2 linked regions of the Homo sapiens genome follow. The protein of the gene in region 1 purifies or fractionates together with the protein of each later gene. This does not show direct contact. Each region holds a gene or a part of one and is shown on either strand. Other genes may lie near its edges.

Region 1 (3,500 bases):
AAGCTTCAGGGACAGCAGGAAACTACCAAGAAACCTCAAAGATTTTTAGGGAAGCAGGGTGATCCACACAGCACAAGGCCCCTGACAGGTGAGGTTTGTCAGATTTCCTTTGCTGGCACCCAGATGATGCTGTGCCTCCTGACTTGAGGAAGGTTCAATGCTTCCCCTACTCTGTTTCAAGCCCTGCAGACTTTTGATTCACCTGACACCAGAGCCAGACTGAACTCTCAATAATTCATGCCTCTGAGCCTTTGCACATGCCATTCCTTCTGGGTGGAGAAAACACACATTAACTCCCCTGGGTAGAAGGAGCAGCATGTGCAAAGGTTCAGAGGCATGAATTGTTCCCCTCTCCCTACCCCATTCCCCTGCTACACTCCGCACATCCCTCCACTGTATGTAACATGTGCACATGTCCATCTTCCAACCAGAGATCACAGGATGTACAAGAGCAACCGTCTGCCTCTACTCTCTCATGCAGGTCCTGAATCCATATGGACAGGTCATGCCCACTGTTGCCTATGTCAGCTCTAGCCACCCATGTCCTGGACATCACAACTCCACAAGCCCCAAGCTACTTAATTTGTCCACGGTCTGTCCTCAGACACCACTGCTGCTTTTCCTCCCAGATGCCTGAGTCATCCTGAATAGGGTTACTCAATGGCAAAGTCAGCTCTCAATTAACTGAATTTCCTCCTTGTCCCATTTCCTCTCTTCCTGGTGCATGGTAACAACTCACTTGCTGGAATGGAGAGCTCCTGTGATTTGAGGGCAATTTACAACCTCTATCACCAAAGCAGGCCCTGCCCAGCAGCTGCCCCTCAGCAATGAGGACACTAAGATCAGTCCTGGAGCGCCATCACACCAAAATGTAAGTTCAAAGGGAGGGACTGAGTTGCTCATTGCTGGATTCCCAGTGGTGTGCTGGTAAACAGGCTCTTCAGGGGAAAAGATTCTGATTTGCAGTGTTTGCCAATTTCTGTGATATAAATACTCTCACTCTGGCCAATTTCAAGCTGCCAATGTGACATCACTGAATGGAGTTGAGATATGCAGTAGCACACCACTACGTACATTACACACACACCCACACCCACACTCACACCCCTTGATATGGTTTGGCTGCGTCCCCACCCAAATCTCATCTTGAATTGTAGCTCCCATAATCCCTGCATGTCATGGGAGGGACGTGGTGGGAGGTAATTGAATCACAGGGGCAGGTTTTCCCCATGCTGTTCTCATGATAGTGAATAAGTCTCCCAAGACCTGAAGGTTTTATAAAGGACAGTTCCCTTACACAGGCTCTCTCGCCTGCCACCATGTAAAATGTGCCTTTGCTCCTCCTTCGCCTTCTACCATGATTGTGAGACCTCCCCAGCCATGTGGAACTGTGAGTCCATTAAATCTCTTTTTCTTTACAAATTACCTAGTCTCAGGTATTTCTTCATAGCAGTATGAAAATAGCAGTATGAAAAAGAACTAATACACTCCCCAACGCACACACACACAAAGCAGCAAATAACCACAAAAGCACAGGTAATAATAGAATAAAATAATTAGGAAAAAAATTGAGTATTTATTACTTTATAAAATATAATTTACAGGCTGGGCATGGTGGCTCACGCCTGTAATCCCAGCACTTTGGGAGGCTGAGGTGGGCAGATCACCTGAGGTCAGGAGTTTGAGACCAGCCTGGCCCACATGGTGAAACCCCGTCTCTACTAAAAATACAAAAATTAGCCGGGAGTAGTGGTGCACGCCTGTAGTCCCAGCTACTCGGGAGGCTGAGGCATGAGAATCGCTTGAACGTGCGTGGGAGGCAGAGGTTGTAGTGAGCCGAGATCATGCCATTGCACTCCAGCCTGAGCAACAAGAGCCAAAACTCCATCTCAAAAAAAAAATTATTATATATATATATACACACATATATATGTATAAAATTTATGGCCAGTCACAGTGGCTCATAATTGTAATTCCAGCACTTTGAGAGGCTGAGGCAGGTGGACCACCTGAGGTCAGCAGTTCAAGACCAGCCTGGCCAACATAGTGAAACCCCATCTCTACTAAAATACAAAAAATTAGCCAGGTGTGGTGGCAGGCACCTGTAATCCCAGCTACTGTAATCCCAGAGGCTGAGGCAGGAGAATCACTTGAACCCAGGAGGTGGAGGTTGCAGTGAGCAGAGATCACGCCACTGCATTCCAGCCTGAGCAACAAGAGTGAAACTCCATCTCAAAAATATATAATAGCAGCCAGGCGCGGTGGCTCATGCCTGTAATCCCAGCACTTTGGGAGGCTGAGGCAGGTGGATCACCTGAGGTCAGGAGTTTGAGACCAGCCTGGCCAACATGGTAAAACCCCGTCTCTACTAAAAATACAAAAATTAGCTGGGCGTGGTGGCAGGCACCTGTAATTCCAGCTACTGAGGGGGCTGAGGCAGGAGAATCACTTGAAACCAGGGGGCGGTGGTTGCAGTGAGCTAAGATTGTACCATTTCACTCCAGCCTGGGCAAAAGAGTGAGACTCCATCTCAAAAAACAAACAAACAAACAAACTATATATATATAATTTACTTAATGATGAATGTATACACTCAAAAAAAATTTTTTTTTTTGAGACGGAGTTTTACTCTTGTCCCCCAGGCTGGAGTACAATGGCACAACCTCGGCTCACTGCAACCTCCGCCTCCTGGGTTCCAGCAATTCTCCTGCCTCAGACTCCCGAGTAGCTGGGATTACAGGCATGGGCCACCACACCCAGCTAATTTTTGTATTTTTAGTAGAGATGGGGTTTCACCATGTTGGCCAGGCTAGTCTCGAACTCCCGACCTCAGGGGATCTGCCTGCCTTGGCCTCCCAAAGTGCTGGGATTACACGCATGAGCCATCGCTCCTGGCCTCAGAATTTTTTATAATGGTTGTGTTTAACAACCGGCTCATAAAATTCCTAAAATTTAGCAATCAGCTCTTATGTGTAGGTGTGAGCTGGCTCCCAACTCACCACTGCCCAGGACCCGGCAGAGGCTCTGTAAGGACCAGTCACTCCTGGGAATGTCATCAGACCAGGGTCCTGAATGAAAATGGCTCTGATGCCCTCCACTGAGGTAGAGAGAAGAAGAACTCTCTGGGACACTGCAAGGAAGGAGCTGAGCTGGGCCCAAGGTGGCACCATGGGGCGGAACAACTCTGGCACACTCAGTTGTTAAAGAGCCTGATTCTCTCCTGGACTTTAGACCCCTTGAGGGCAAGAACAGTGGCCCATTCACCCTTGTCTAGCCGGGTGACAGGAATACAAAAGGCACTGGAGACAGTTGTGCAGAAGAAAGCAAGGACTGAGTGGCCAGGGAGTCCCAGGCTGAGTGCTGGCGCCTTCGCTGACTCGCTTCAGCAGTGACCTTCGACAGTCACTTAAATGCTGTATGCTCAGCTTCCTCATCTGTAAGATGGATATGAACCCATCTCCCTGCCTAACTACTAGGGTGTTGTCAAAACAAAGAGATAG
Region 2 (3,500 bases), about 160 Mb from region 1:
AAGAAATAAAGACATGTGGGCATGGGAATTGTTGATCTTTTCCTAGCTGAGGATTTTCCTTAAATTAGCAAATGTTCTTAAAAATAGTAACATGGGGGCTGGGCGCAGTGGCTCACACCTGTAATCCCAGCACTTTGGGAGGCAGAGGTGGGCAGATCATGAGGTCAGAAGATCGAGACCATCCTGGCTAATATGGTGTAATCCTGTCTCTACTAAAATACAAAAAATTAGCTTGGCGTGGTGGCGTGTGCCCGTAGTCCCAGCTAGGCAGGAGGCTGAGGCAGGGGAAGTGCTTGAACCTGGGAGGCACAGGTTGCAGTGAGCAAAGATTGCACCACTGCACTCCAGCCTGGCTGGAGAGACTCCAGCAAGGCTCCGTCTCAAAAAAAAAAAAAAAAAAAAAAAATGAACATGGGTAATACAATACTCACTATTAGAATTAACTTTGGAATATTATGGGCTATTTCTGGGACTTGAGGTATACAGAATCAACACTTCCATATTCGGGGTGGGGGGCTGGGGTGAGGGGAAAGGAAGATGAATTTGGGATTTATTTACTCTTTTAGTGACCTGAATGTAGAAAGTGGTTGGAGTAGGTTCTGGATGTCCTTTAGGAATATAATAACTTACCCTGAGTTGGTTAAGAGACAGCATTTCTATGCTGGCCTCAGAAAACAGCAGAAAGAGGCACTGTGTGGTGCAATATGGATTTCTTTCTAGCAGGAATTTTAAACAAGTTGTATGGTATCAGAACTGCCACTGGTGACCCACAAATAATTCTCCTGTAAACATCATCCAGAAAAGCAGTTGAAAATCTCACTGATCAACCTAGTTGCCATTCAAGGAGGGGACAGACTCTGGTCTGCAAGAAAGCTACTGCCAAGAGCCACCACCACTAAATGCTGCAGCCATCATGAACTGCTCCCTTTGCTATGAGAACAAATAATGACAGGACAATGAAAAATTTAAAGCCGAAAGCTCCATCTCCTTCTGCCATTTTGGGTCTAGTCACCTTTTAATATAGAGAAGGAATGCAGAGACCTGGTGAAGATGAGGATTCACTTGGGGATAAGCAGGGAGTCTACTTCTGGCAGTTACAGGGATTATAAATTACATAATTGAAACTTCTGACTTCTGATGGGAGCAAAACTAGGAAAATTGTAGTATATTATCTTACAGTATGAAAAATTAGCCCCAATATAAATAAGATAATCTAGTTGGATTACCACACAAGAGGAGTTTAAAATATGTACAATTACCACTCTAAACCCAAGAAGGACATCTGATAACTATCCAACATGAATAAACACTGTCTTACTGTAACCTCAGGATTACTATGGCATTAATATATGATGTCATATTAGATGCTATCCAAGGGTTAACTCTTAACACTATTTCCTGCAGAAACAGATAAATACTTTATGTGTTAAAAAAAAAAAAAGTCAACATACGAATTGAATGCCAGTTTGAATGGTCTTTTAGGACTGAAATTTAATGAAAGAAAAATAATGGCTTCATATCTCAGTACATCCTCTCTCCCCAAAGGTAGTATGATTACAAAAAAAGTTATTTAGAATTAAACTATCAGATAGCTAGATATTGGCTTAAGATAAATTATTTTTTTTTTGCATGCAACAGAAAAATAAGACCAGATATTTTACTTCTAGCATAGAGATGTGGAAGTGGTACGTACAAGGTTATTAATGTAAGTTTTTAATGGTTCTTGATTGTATTTTGGATGACTGGTAATTCCTAGTTGTAGCTGTGGTCTGCTAGGGCCTACTATAAATAAGTTCTAGCTCAACAGGTTATTTTTTACTTGCTAAATAAAATAAAAGTGTGAGTCAGTAATTCTTATTATTTTCTCCCTCTTTTTTGGAAACCGGCAGTTTTACTGCAGAACTCTCCTCAAGGCTAAGCTAATAAAATACCCAATATTTTTTTCTGACTATGAAGAGACTAAGAAAAGACAACAGAAAAATTAGCAAGTCTTTTATAAAAACAGAAGACATATAAACATGCACCAACTTGCTTAAGTCAGTGATACTACACTAACTTATACCAAAACATTTTTAGTAGCACACGTAGGCTAGTGAAGAAAACCTGCATCTACTAAAATAGTTTTATCTTTATTGACTTGCTTAAAAAGGGTCATTATAGACAATACATTAAAAATCTGGATGGCGCTGTGGGTCACACCTGTAATCCCAGCACTTTGGGAGGCCAAGGCAGGCGGATCACCTGAGGTCGGGAGTTTGAGACCAGCCTGACCAACATGGAGAAACCCCATCTCTACTAAAAATACAAAAAAAATTAGCCAGGCGTGGTGGCACATGCCTGTAATCCCAGCTACTTGGGAGGCTGAGACAGGAGAATCGCCTGAACCCGGGAGGTGGAGGCTATGGTGAGCCAAGATCATGCCACTGCACTACAGCCTGGCCAACAAGAGCAAAACTCCATCTCAAAAATAAATAAATAAATAAATATATAAAATATAATAAAATAAAATCCTGACAAGTTGAGAAATGAACAGTTATTCACTCAGCAACTGGTGGATTTATTCATAGAGATAGATGTAACTGATTTTAAATGTAAATTAATTTTAGTATAGGTATAAGTATATACAATGTATTTAAATATAAGATACGTGAATATATATATATATATATATATATAAAAACTTCCATTTTTGGCCATAACAGAGTAAACAGACTAAATTTGTTTTCCTACCATATACAACTGGAAAACTGAAAAAAATATGTAAGATACCACTGGACCACAGGCAGTACAGGACTGTGATCTTTGAGAGAAAAGAAACAAATGAAGTGAGTCCTATAATCACCCTGGTTTTCTACTGAGAGGCAATTTCTGGACCACAAAGCAGGTAAGGAGATGGACATAACAACAGATGAGACAAGTGAGGAATAAAACATCAAAAAATTTGGTAACACCTCCAAAATTACAACTGAAGCAGACAGGAAAAAAGCATGAGAGGAAAAAGAGATTAGCATCTCAGTGACCTATTGGGCAATATGCAACCTAATAAATGTATAATTGGAGTCCCAAAGAAGGAAGAGAAAAAAATATATGAAAACGTTAAGACTAAAATGTTTCAAATTTGTAAACTATAAACCCACAAATCTAAGAAGCTTAACAATTTCTGGCAGAAAGAAGCACAACACCACATCAAGGCACACCACAGTTACACTGCTGAAGACAAGAAACAGAGAAAATCTGTAGAAATGCCAAAGAAACAAAGACACATTACATAAAGAGAAAGATCGCCAATTTCCCATCAGCAAGAATGCAAGCCAGAAGACAATAGGACAGCATCTTTAAGATGACAAACAAGAGGCCAGGCGCAGTGGCTCACGCCTGTAATCCCAGCACTTTGGGAGGCCATGGCAGGCGGATCGCCTGAGGTCAGGAGTTTGAGAGCAGCCTGGCCAACATGGTGAAACCCCATCTCTACTAAAAATACAAAAATTAGCTGGGCGTGG

Evidence for each region.
Region 2: the proteins of ARHGEF10L (region 1) and COP1 purify together in Homo sapiens (co-immunoprecipitation; 2 studies listed by BioGRID and IntAct, with this or other methods). This does not show direct contact.

The regions. Positions count from the first base shown.
Region 1 is NC_000001.11:17,542,698-17,546,197, reverse strand, and holds part of ARHGEF10L (rho guanine nucleotide exchange factor 10-like protein), read right to left. Parts: intron 1-3,500.
Region 2 is NC_000001.11:175,948,787-175,952,286, forward strand, and holds part of COP1 (E3 ubiquitin-protein ligase COP1), read right to left. Parts: intron 1-3,500. UniProt on the Homo sapiens protein: E3 ubiquitin-protein ligase that mediates ubiquitination and subsequent proteasomal degradation of target proteins.